3 linked regions of the Homo sapiens genome follow. The protein of the gene in region 2 purifies or fractionates together with the protein of the main gene of each other region. This does not show direct contact. Each region holds a gene or a part of one and is shown on either strand. Other genes may lie near its edges.

Region 1 (4,279 bases), on a different chromosome or scaffold from region 2:
ACATCTGACAGGTAGTTTTGACTGCTTGGTATCACAGAGTTCAATCCAACAAAAGGAAGACATGTTCCCTTGTGTATAATGAATCTGCAGATCACTTATTCAAACTATAGTAGTCTGAACTCAGATGCTGGATGTCAGGTCCCCTCAGGATTGTCTTCCTGCGTCTTGACTGCAGCCACTCCTACACAGGGTGATTTCCTGGGCTGGAGCCAGTTTGCAGGACTATGAGACTATATAGACTACAAAGCCTAGCTAGGCCCCAGGTCGGCGGCAGAGTAAGCCCCACAGCAATGCGTTAAGCCTTCATGAAATGAGTGTTGAATGAATGAGGTAGTGATTCAGTGTATATTTGATCCACTGCAATAGGTGGGAAGGGGGCAGAGGCAGCTACTTCCTAAAATAACCCTTCTTCAGACTCTTAAAGAACTGATCCTTGTTTTGAATTAAAATCTATCTTCATTTAACTTCCAGTCCTTTGCCCTACAGATAATTCGTAGCGCCACATCAGTTCTACCCATTCTTTCACATGAAGACAGATGTCATGTTCTGAGTCATCTTTCTTCGCCTCCTTCCAGCAGCCCTTATCTGGTGGCTCACATTTGAGCGAGCTCCAATATGTCTCTGTAGAATCTCTCTCTTCTTTTTTCTTTTCTTTTTTTTTTTTTTTGAGATGGAGTTTCGCTCTTGTTGCCCAGGCTGGAGTGCAATGGCGCGATCTCGGCTCACCGCAACCTCCCCTCCCGGGTTCAAGCGATTCTCCTGCCTCAGCCTCCCTAGTAGTTGGGATTACAGGCATGCACCACCACGCCCGGCTAATTTTGTATTTTTAGTAGAGACAGGGTTTCTCCATGCTTGTCAGGCTGGTTTTGAACTTGCGACCTCAGGTGATCCGCCCGCCTTGGTCTCCCCAGGTGCTGGGATTACAGGCGTGAGCCGGCCCGGCCTGTAAAATCTCTTCAAAGTGTGGTACATGGAGTGCAGTACTCCACCTGTGGCCTGACTGATATGCAGTACAATATTATCACTAAATTGCTACAGACAGTGTGCTTTTCATTGTTGTCACAGAAATGTATTTGGTTAGTTATATTTGTTCATATCTCATCTGACTTTCCAGTCTTCCCTCACTTTGTACAGTCATATTTGCCGAGTCAAGTAAAAGTTATAACATTTAGGACACAATGCCCGACTTACTATAATTACCATTATTATCTTAGGATCATTACAAAACAGAATTACCACTTAGCTCTCAGGCCCTACCTCCTTCAGCCTCAGAAACGTTAACGCTACCTTGCATTGCTGCTTTTAGCACCGCCCCTAATAAGCCCCGCCCCTGGGGCCTCCGCGGCGGGAGCCTAGCGTCCGCCCCACCCACCCCGAGCCCGAGGCGGGGCTGTGGATGTAGACGCTGATTGGCTGACTGGGGCGCAGCTTGATGGCGTCGGGCTGGAGAGCCGCAGTCCCGGCTGCAGCACCTGGGAGAAGGCAGACCGTGTGAGGGGGCCTGTGGCCCCAGCGTGCTGTGGCCTCGGGGAGTGGGAAGTGGAGGCAGGAGCCTTCCTTACACTTCGCCATGAGTTTCCTCATCGACTCCAGCATCATGATTACCTCCCAGGTGAGTCACCGCCTCCCGCCCCGACACCCGTCCGCCTCCCTTTACCGAATCGCCCTCTCCGGTCCTCCGCGGTGCGGGCTGGTCCGGGGTCTCGCTCCTCTCTTACGCGTCCTGCGCTAGTCACTCTGGCACCCAGAGAGGGTGTGCGATTTGCTGCGGCCGGTTCCCTCAGCCCCGGCTGTCAGGAGACTGGCCTGCGGCCGTCCGCGTCCCCACCCGGCATCCATCCCCGGAATTTCGGTCCACTTTTGGAAGCGGTCCGCCGACCTCCAGGCTAAGAGCCGGCGCCGCCAGCTAAGGCGGCGGTTCTAGGAGCTCCTCGAAGCTTCCGGGCTGCGCCAACTGATCCTGGACTGGGGAAGCCTGTGTGGTTCTGGGCGCGCGGTGTGCGACGCGCCAATACTGGATACTGAGGACACGTCAGTGCAGGCTTTGCTGTTAGATGTCAAATCCTGAATCCGGGTGTGGAGAAATTTGCTGCTTCAAAGTATCAGTATAAGGTAATACCTGTGCTTGAAAGTATAAGGTTTCGTTTTTGCACTGACACCTCGTCCTTTATCCTCTGCTTAGTTACCCACCTTTTCCGGATGTTTTTCTGACCCTCATTTCTTCTCCATTGGCCACCTTCATTTGTTTGTACAGTCAACAAACATTTATCGACCATTATATAAAGCTCTGAGCGTAAAAACATGTAAGACACTGTCTCTGCTCAATAGAAGTTTCGTCTAGTTAGCCTCTTGCTTTTACCATGTAATCTATTGTTAATTATTGTTTCTTCCTAGCATTCATCATAGCACTGGCATCATTTATGTCTGTGTTTCTGATTTTGTTTTTTGAGATCCTGCCTTGTTCATAGCTGTATCCCCACTTCCAAGTGCAGGCATTCAATAAATAATTGTTGGCCAATATTTGTGAAGCTCAGACTGCCTGTTGACCTTCTTCCCCCCATCTTTCCAATAAAGATTTTGTGTGTGTGTGGTTGTTTTTACTTGTTCTTTCTCTCAAACGGCAAATAACAGAAGCAGTTACCTTTGGGGGCTTAAAGTGAACTAAATTTGTGTTCTTTGATTCCGTTTTTGTATTGCTTCATCCTAATACTCGTCTCCGTAGAGCGGAGCATTGTCCTTTTCTCTTCAAAAACTTGTTTACAATATTTAAGAAAATAAGAAAGAAGGAAAAGCCATCCATAATCCTACCACTCTAATGCAATAGTTTTTTCATTTTTAAAATTTACCACCTTTTCTATAGTTTTCATAAGTATTGTTTTTATTGGCTGCATAATATTCAAATGTATTAATGTAAAAAAACCTAGACATGTAACTCTTCTGCTTAAAACCTTTCTAAGACTACCCAGTGCCCTTGGTGACAACTCAGGGTTATTTTTAGCCTTAGTACCAATTTAAGAAAAATAACAATATTTAATTAGCTTTTCTTTTCATTTAGAATAAAGATAAGAATGTCAGTAGAAAATTGGCTTTGCATTGCAGCCTCTACGATTTTTAGCATGGATATAATTGATACGTTGAACCGAGGAAGTGGCTTTCTAATTTTGTATGCCTTATAATCATAGACTTTCACTTCACACATGCATCCACATGCAGTAATTAATTGTTAAACCTGGTTTTTACAAATGTGGAAGAAAGACCCAAAGATTCCTTTGCATGGAATGTTCTCTGTTCAGATATTTATGTGGCTACTTTATCATCCTTTCGGTATTAATAAAAATGTCGCTTTAGGAAGGTCTTACCTGACACCCTGCCCACAACCAAAGTAGCTTTCCATTTCGGCTGCCTTCTTCCTCATTTCCATGTTTTATTTTCTTCTTGGCATTTATTACTATGGTTCATTTGTATATTCATGTGTTTGTTATCTGTCCATGAGGTCCAAGATACTGTCTGTCTTGTTCTCTCCTGTATTCACCAGCATCTAGATCAGTTGCGGGCACATAGTAGAGTTGTAGTGAATATTTGTTTAATAAAAAGCACCTCTCTAGAGAGGTGTGGTTACCTTGGAAACACCACCATTGCCCCCTGCGCCCCTCCCTGCTCATTTTTTCTGTTTTGTATTAACTGAAAGGTTTATTTGAAATGAAATCTGAAATCAGAGGTCACGTATTCAATCTTGCTCACCACGGCACAGGATGAAGTTCAAACTCCTTTACATGGCTTTTCAGGTCCCTTATTGATGGGACCCTGGCTCTTCTCTCTTCAGCTGTGGCTCCAATTTATTCTTTAGACTTCCTGAACTTCTTTTAGTTCCCTAACCTGGCGATGCTATGGTGCCTCCAGATTTCCACACAGTGTGTTTTCTCTTTCTGGGCCTTTTCCTCATATCCCTCCCCTTCTTTAAGCCTTCAGATCTCAAGTTGAACATCCAAGAAGCTTCCCCTAGACTGGACTAGATGTCCCTATACCTACTGCCATAGTACCCTTCACCTACTTCCCCTGTAACAACACTACCACATTGTTTGGTAATTACTTGTTTATCTCCTCCATAGATTATAAACTCCTTGAGAGTAGCATTCATGCTCTCATTTGCCATTCTATCCCTTGGACCTGGCACATATTAGGCACTAATAAATATTTGTTAAATGATTAAAAGGGTGAATAAATGATCCAAGAAAGGTGTCTTTTATAGTTAATTCTTTAATAACTGTCCTGCTGATGG
Region 2 (4,411 bases):
AGGGGACACCACTGCTCCCTCCAGTGTCCTCTCAGGGTTCACCTGATTGAGTCAGGCCCATCAGGATAATCTTCCTTCTTTTTTTTTTTTAACTTTTTTTTTGTTTTTGAGACAGAGTCTCGCTCTGTCACCCAGGCTGGAGTGTAGTGGCCCAGTCTCAGCTCACTGCAAGCTCCGCCTCCCAGGTTCATGACATTCTCCTGCCTCAGCCTCCCCAGTAGCTGGGACTACAGGTGCCTGCCACCATGCCTGGCTAATTTTTTGTAATTTTAGTAGAGACAGGGTTTCACCACATTAGCCAGGATGGTCTCGATCTCCTGACCTCGTGATCCGCCCGCCTCGGCCTCTCCCAAAGTGCTGGGATTACAGGCGTGAGCCACCACGCCTGGCCCCTTTTTCAACTTTTATTTTAGGTTCAGGAGTACATGTGCAGGTTCATTATTGGGGTAAACTTGTGTCATGGGGGTTTGTTGTACAGATTATTTCGTCACCCAGGTACTAAACCTAGTACCCAGTAGTTATTTTTTTCTGATCCTCTTTCTCCTCCCACCCTCCACTCTCAAGTAGCCACTGTGTCTGTCAATCATCCTTCTTGATAAACTCAAAGTCAAACGAGTCCAGATCTTACCTACATCTGCAAAATCAATTTTTCCTATAAAGGAACGTAATCACAGAAGCACTGTCCCACAGTAGTACGAGTGCTGAGCCGTTGTAGGCAGAGAGGGTTGTCCTGCCCACACTCAAGGGGAGAGAGTGCAGGGCCAGTTCACCCCTCACGCGGAAGTGGCAGTGCTGGGGGCTCACTTCGTGCTCTGCTCACCACAACTCCAAACTCACAACTTTATTCCCACCAATCCCATCCCCTCCAGTCCAGGGGGCACACACTCCAGCAGGACTTCAGCTGAGCCCAGGGAACGCTTTGCTGACTGGTGATGAGGGACCTACCTCTTCACACCCATGACACCCACCCGCTGAGCCCCTCACCGGGGCTCCGAAGGCCCTGGTCAGGTCACCTCTGGTCTCACTTTCCATTCTCCCCTCCTTCCTCCCCTCCAGCCACAGGGTCCTTCTCGATGTGCCCAGACATGGTGGGTGCACACTTGTCTGACAGCCTCTCTTCTTTTCCCTTTGCTTGGAATGCTCTCTTCCCAGTTACCAAAGATACTCAGGCTCTCTCCCCAATTTCCTTCAGGCCCTTGCTCCAAAAGCTCCTTCCGGGTGAAGCCTCCCCTCCCATCCTCCTTAAAGCTTCAGCCTCTACCTGGGACACTTCCTCCCCCACTGCCTGCCTCCTTGAAACTCTCCTTAGTCCTCTTGCAGCCCACACAGCTGAACACAGGCAGGAGGGGGCGCTGCTGCCCTGGCTGGTGTGCAGCCACCAGAGGCTGAAGCTCACTGACGTCTGTCTGGGGCCCAGGATCACCTTCCTTGATTCCAGCTCTCTCAGGCTGTCAGGACCTGGCGCTGGGAGGCACTAGGCCATGCCCTGGCCTGAGGCCTTCTCTCTCCCTCTTTGCCCTGTGTCTCTGCAGGGAAGCCCGGCCCTGCCCCTGGGAGGGTGGGGGCAGACGTGTGGAGAGTGGGTGTACAAGGCCAGGGTTTGCCAGGCCCAGGACAGCCTGGCACCTGTCAATGGATGAGCGCCTCTCCCTTAGCCTGATGTCAGGGTGGGCATGAGGGTGGGAGCAGAGGGTGCCTAACTGAGGAAAGGGTCTGTGCAACCCCCTTCTCCTACCAGTTCTCGTTTCTGAAGTCTCCTCAAGCACACTGCGGTGTCCACACCATTGGCAGCAGGCTCCTTCTCTTCAGGTGGTCTTAGGAACTTCTCAGAACTTTTTGAGTTATCCTTCTGGTCTCTTCCTCCTGAGCACGGTTCTCCTGGTTGAGCTCCAGGCCATGCCATTCAACGCCCTCCAGGACAGGCCGAAGGGCTTGTCTGTTTGGTGGTTGCTAAGGTTTGAAAAAAGCCAGCTGGAAACTTAATCCCCAAAGCAACAGTGTTGGGAGGTGGGACCTAATGGGAGGTGTTTAGTCATGAGGGCTCCACCCTTATGAATGGATTCTCTCTCTCTTGTTCTCTCTCTCTCTCTTCCCGCCCCGCCCACCCCTCCTTCCCCAACCTTGTGATACCTTCCACCATGTCATGGCAAGAAGGCCCTTGCCAGATGTGGCCCCTCCATCCTGGGTTCCCAGTCTCCAGAACCATGAGCCAAATGCATTTCTGTCTGTTACAAATTATGTACGGTGTGGTTTTCTGTGATGAACACAGTGCTGTACCAGGGCCCTCTTGCCAAGACAGCCAGCTTATAGGAGCCTGCATGTGAGGCCCGGACGTCCTACAGAGCAGCAGTTAGAGGTCTGGCCTTCTGGATAGGCACTGCCCTGCCCTGCACACAGGACCTTGGTGGGGCATGATGGGGCTCTTCACCACGCTGCCCTCATTTTAGGAGGTGGGCAACCCTTTCTCCCCCTTCTCCATGTGCTTCTGCAGTTGGAAGAAGTGAGGGGGGTTCAGACACACTTAAGCTGAGCTTAGAGCAAAGCATGTCCCTCAAGGTGACCTTGCCGCATGGCCTGAACCTAGAATTCCCCTGACCAGGGTGGACAGCCATCACCATGGGCCTTTCTGCCTGGCCTAGTATGGCTCTCCTTCGAACTCACCTAGACCCTTGCATCAAAGGACTCGGGGACTCTGCTGCAGTCATCCTAGCACGGTCGAGAGGAGTAGGAAGGTGCCCAGCGGCTCAGCCTTTAAGGAGGTCTATTGGTCACCATTGCTTCTGCCTTCTTGAGAACCATCACCCTCGGAGGATCCGGTAGTGTATCCCAGTCAAGTGTCAAATGCGTTGTTCCCTGGAGAGGAAGGCTTATTTCCAGAAAGTACTCTGACGTTTTGTAATTTGTGATTTCTATCACTGGCTCAGTGGCCTACCCACTGCTCAGCTCATGTGGCATGACCAGGCTGGGGCGTCGGGTCATCTTGTTCTCTGGGTGTGTGGCAACACTGGTTTATGGCGTAATTTCCTTCCTGAGAAGAAATTCAGTAATTTCTAATATTCAGGGCTTTAGGTAGAGGCCTGAAAATCACTCTCCATGCCTCTTTCAGTATTTTATATATAGTTGTCTCTTGGTATCCATGGGGTTTGGTTCCAGAATCCCCTGCAGATACCAAAATTTGCGAATGTTCAAGTCCTTTATATATAGTGGCATAGTATTTGCATATAACCTATGCATATCAGCCAATCATAGATGGTGATTTAAATCATCTCTTGATTACTTCTAACACCTAATACTATGTAAATGCTTTGTAAGTAGTTGTTACCTGGCATTTTTTTATTTGTTTTATTTTTGTTGTTGTTTCATTAATTTTATTTTATTTTTGGAATATTTTCAGTCCATTGTTGGTTGAATCCACAGATGCAGAAGCCTTAGACACAGAGGGCCGACCACACCTATGTATGCTGTTCTTAAAGTAGCAACATATTTGTTCTGAACATAGAAGAAATTAGTCGTCTATTAGACTTTAAGGGAGTAAATATGGTCCAAGTTGATTTTTAAATTTAGCAAATAGTCATAGACATATCAGTGTCTTACAGAAAATATTTATTGGAATGCTCACTCTCTCATTTGGGATACTGCTTTGCCTTGCTGTGTCTTAAGAATGTCATCAGAGCATCACACACTTGAAAAACGTTTTTAAAAGGATATGATGATAATTAAGACCTTCTCCCCAACCCCTGCCCATTATCCAAGATCAATGTTTTTTTCCTTTATCCTGATTTTAAAATCAAGTACACTTTATTGAGGCATACTTTACATGAAGCAAAATGTACCCTTTCTAAATATGATAAGTTTGATGAGTTTTCAACAGATGTATACAGCTGTTACCATGACTGTGTCTTTACCCAGGTTCTTGCATTGCTCAATCCAGATACAGAATGTCTCCATCACCCTGACAAGTTCCTTTGTGCCGCACCCTCTAGCCAATCATCTGTTTTGAGGAGAGTTTTAAAACAAAGGTTTTTGTTCTTTTTCACTGATGACCATAACCTACCACAGACAGGGTCTCTCTCTCTCTCTCTCTCTCTTTTTCCCTGTTCTTGCGCCAGCTGCCTGACAATTTGTGGGATTAAAGCTCTAAGCTGCTTACTGGCTCTTCTGACTAGGGAGAGGGAGCAAGCCTCATTATTTTTCTATTCTTTTCAGTGACTGCTCACTCCTCTTCCTCCAAAATCCCTATCCATCCATCCATCCATCCATCCATCCATCCATCCATCCATCCATCCAACTTTCCATCTACCCATCTATCCTTCCATCTATCCAATCCACTTGCGTGTTGAACGTCTACTATGAGCCATTGGCTACCAGGAATCCCACTTCCACCCAAATTATGTTTCAACAGGGAAGACAA
Region 3 (3,646 bases), on a different chromosome or scaffold from region 2:
AAAAAATGCATTAAGAATTTGCCCTTTCTTATGCCCTTTTAAGGTTGATGTGGTGCTTTAAGAAGCTAACATAGAAGGATAAAGTAAGTCTCTACAAAACCCAGAGAAGAGACTGGAAAACTCCTCTCTGGATCCTGCCTGGAGTCACAGCTGTACCAGGAAAAAAAAAAAAAAATTCACTAAGAATGAATACCTTGGTAAGGATTTAACAGCATCAATTTCAAATGTCTCTGTTTAGTATTTTACCAGTCACAAAATGCTGATTATGTCCTCACAGGAATAAGTATCTTAGAATATCTCTGTCCAGTAACCTTTGATTATTCTTAAAAAAAACAACAAAGGAGGCCAGGCACAGTGGCTCATGCCTGTAATCCCAGCACTTTGGGAGGCCGAGGCTGGCAGATCACCTGAGGCCAGGAGTTCAAGACCAGCCTGGGCAACATGGTAAAACCCCGTTTAAATACAAAAATTAGCCCAGCGTGATGGCAGGCACCTGTAATCACAGCTACTAGGGAGGCTGAGGCATGAGAACTGCTTGAACTCGGGAGGCGGAGGTTGCAGTGAGCCAATATCACGCCACTGCACTCCAGCCTGGGTGACAGAGACCCTGTCTCCAAAAAAAACAAAAAGACAAAGGAAATCTGAAGGCTTTTCCTAGTTGCCACAATGTTTCATACAAAAGACAACCACAAAGTAAAACTGCATAGGTAATTTCTATCATTTACTAATGGGTGATGTTCCGTAATGCACTCATGTTAGTTATTCAGTACTTAGAACATTATTTCCTCATAGGAAAATAATAGCACTATCGGCACTCACAGTACTCTGGAACCTAATAACCATTTATAATAAATGTTTCTATGGGAAAATTAATTAACATTTCTAACTGAGATAGAACACATCCCTCCTTCATCTGCTCCCTCCTCCCCTTCACCCTCTTACACACACAAAGAACTGCCTCTGAAGCTCTAGAAATCCTTTTCCTATCAAACACAACGCCAAAAGGGATAATTCTAAGTAGCTGGCAGTGTGGCTCATGTAGCCTTACTTTTCTAAAAGCCTGATATGAAAAACGGGTCAAGGGACACACAGGGCAGAGAAGGGGAAAGACATAGCTGAGGATGGAGGTGAGAAGGAACAGAGATGTGTGCTTACGTATATGTGTTGGCAAAGGGGTTGAAAAAATCCACAGTAATTGGATTGTTTCATTTTCTTCTCACTGTCAGTAGCTGAGTTAGATACAAAGGATGGTAAAGTTCTGTTTGTAATGAATTAACCTTGGCTGAGATGAAAAAGGCATAGTAGGAAACAGCCTATGTACAGGTAGTCTCCTTGACAGAATATAATCATGTTTTATCTTCCCTTGAAAAACAGAACCAAAGACCATATTGATTTGTTTAAACATGCTGATTTAAAATGTACCAAAGATTATTTTGAATGAAGCGAGAGAATGTTTTGATTTATCTAATATCATCAAACTTTTTTCTCTGAGATAAAATAGACTCTCATTCCTCTGTAACAACGCCACGGGGTAAATGAACTAAAGAATATTAAACCTCTTCTGTATTTTCTGATGTAAGAGCCCTCCTTAGGAAAGAGGTAGTGAGAATTCAGGCTGGCTCCGAAGGACAGGAGCTAAGGTGAAAAAGAAGGAAAAAGTGCTTTAAAGGCCTATTACTTAGCAACAGCCCTGGGTTGGGGTAGTATGGTACTCATCTTGCTTGCTCTAGGCCAATTTTGTAAGCACTGGAAAACAGGAGCTCAGCACGTTCCAGTTCTAGTATAAGAGGGGCTAGACATTTTATTTGTATTGCTTGCTACAGGAAGAATGCCCTGGTCATAAGACCACTAATCATAAGAATACTACTGTAAGCCCAGAGATAAGATTAAGAAGGAGGGATGTGATTGCTATACCTACATTTTATTTTGTATTCTTCCACCAAAAAAAAACAAAAACAAAAACAGATCTCTCTTCCTTTTCTGTGCCTGGACTTAAACAGTGCTTAACTCAGTTGCAACATGCATGTAGACCAGGGAAACTAAAATAGGCTGTAAAATCATTTATTCATTCAAAATTCATTTGGCAGTAGTAAAGCATTCATTATTCTAACATTATTTCGCACTTAAAGTGTGCAGAGCTTTTTGCCAGGCTAGTGGTTTTCAGCTTGGTTCTGCATCAGCAATATCTGCTAAGTTTTTGAAAAATATCTATGCTATGGGTTTTACTCCAAACCTACTAAATATATGGGGCAGAGTCCCAGGCATCTGTTTAACTACTTTGAAAAGGTTGGCATCGAGATTCCTTTTTTTTTTCTTGAGACAGTCTCACTCTGCCGCCCAGGCTGGAGTGCAGTGGCGCAATCTCAGCTCACTGCAACCTCCGCCCCCCGGGTTCAAGTGATTCTTGTGACTCAGCCTGCCGAGTAGCTGGGATTATAGGCGTGCACCATCACACCTGGCTAAGTTTTATATTTTTAGTAGAGACAGGATTTCACCATGTTGGCCAGGCCAATCTCAAACTCCCAACCTCAGGTGATCCTCCCGCCTCAGCCTCCCAAAGTACTAGGATTCCAGGCGTGAGCCACTGCGCCCAGCCAGCACCTAGATTCTCAAGTTAACTTCTGCCACTTGATAACTTATTTAACTAGCCTGCCCACACTGATTATACTGGAGTTAGAAAACTACTAGGCTGCTGAATTTGGTCCTCAGAATGCTTTTATCTGGCACAATGTTTTTAAAGGTTTCGAACACACTGTCAAGTTTTACAAATCATACTTCACATAAAACCCCAGGATCTCTGGTTTTAGAAAAGTAAAAGATCTAAAATCTTACTGAAGAAGGTAGAAGTGTCTGACCAAAGAAACATAGTAGTACTGCAGAAACATTACAGTACTGCAGGTCCATGTTGAAGGTCAGTGTAGATTCGGCTCCCATTTATGATGATAGCCATGTACCCCACTGTATGACTTTCTGCAGCAATTTTTGACTGCCTTTGGGGATACATGAGTAGAATGGAACCTTGGATGTGAATTTAAAGTACTGGTAAGAAAGTAAATGCAGTTAATAAAATGAAGGACCATGAAATCTAAGCTGAACAAAGAAGTAAAACAGGTACAGAAATGTAGAGAGGTGAAATACCGAGGTCTGAATGAAAATAAAGACTAGCCAAAATAGCAGTTAATCATAATGATAATGATGATACACATGAAGTGCTTATTCTGTGCCAGTCACTTTAAGCACTTTGCATGTATTAAAGTCTCACTAAAAATCACATAAATTAGGTACCATTATTTTCCCCATTTGAAAGGTGAGGAAACAGGCACAGACAAGCTAAGCAATTTGCGTAAGAAACAACAATGCTGACAAATGACAGAGCTGGGATTCAAATTCTGGCAATGTAGCTCCAAAGGCTATAGTGCTAACCACTATGCTAAAATGCATCTCTAGCAAGCAACTAGAAAGAAAGAGATTAAGATTCAAGAATGAGACATTTAAATTAGTGATTAAATGGTGGAATTCTGAGGTGATGAATTCTAGGGAATTAGGGGAATACCATAAATTATGGTAAACTTGGGGTTTGGGATACACATTAATCAAGTTTTCAAAACAGCACAAATCTCCAAGTAGCATCTATCAGCAGTTCTTA

What was found.
Region 1: the proteins of KCNE1 (region 2) and GPR89A purify together in Homo sapiens (affinity purification with mass spectrometry, with the first as the bait; one large-scale study listed by BioGRID). This does not show direct contact.
Region 3: the proteins of KCNE1 (region 2) and INTS7 purify together in Homo sapiens (affinity purification with mass spectrometry; one large-scale study listed by BioGRID and IntAct). This does not show direct contact.

The regions. Positions count from the first base shown.
Region 1 is NC_000001.11:145,606,564-145,610,842, forward strand, and holds the start of GPR89A (Golgi pH regulator A), read left to right. Parts: upstream 1-1,424; 5' UTR 1,425-1,570; coding exon 1,571-1,612; intron 1,613-2,054; exon of another isoform or gene 2,055-2,112; intron 2,113-4,279. UniProt on the Homo sapiens protein: Voltage-gated channel that enables the transfer of anions such as iodide, chloride, bromide and fluoride which may function in counter-ion conductance and participates in Golgi acidification.
Region 2 is NC_000021.9:34,509,366-34,513,776, forward strand, and holds the start of KCNE1 (potassium voltage-gated channel subfamily E member 1), read right to left. Parts: upstream 2,846-4,411; 5' UTR 2,662-2,845; intron 1,960-2,661; exon of another isoform or gene 1,951-1,959; 5' UTR 1,736-1,950; intron 1-1,735. UniProt on the Homo sapiens protein: Ancillary protein that functions as a regulatory subunit of the voltage-gated potassium (Kv) channel complex composed of pore-forming and potassium-conducting alpha subunits and of regulatory beta subunits.
Region 3 is NC_000001.11:212,025,531-212,029,176, forward strand, and holds part of INTS7 (integrator complex subunit 7), read right to left. Parts: intron 153-3,646; exon of another isoform or gene 31-152; intron 1-30. UniProt on the Homo sapiens protein: Component of the integrator complex, a multiprotein complex that terminates RNA polymerase II (Pol II) transcription in the promoter-proximal region of genes.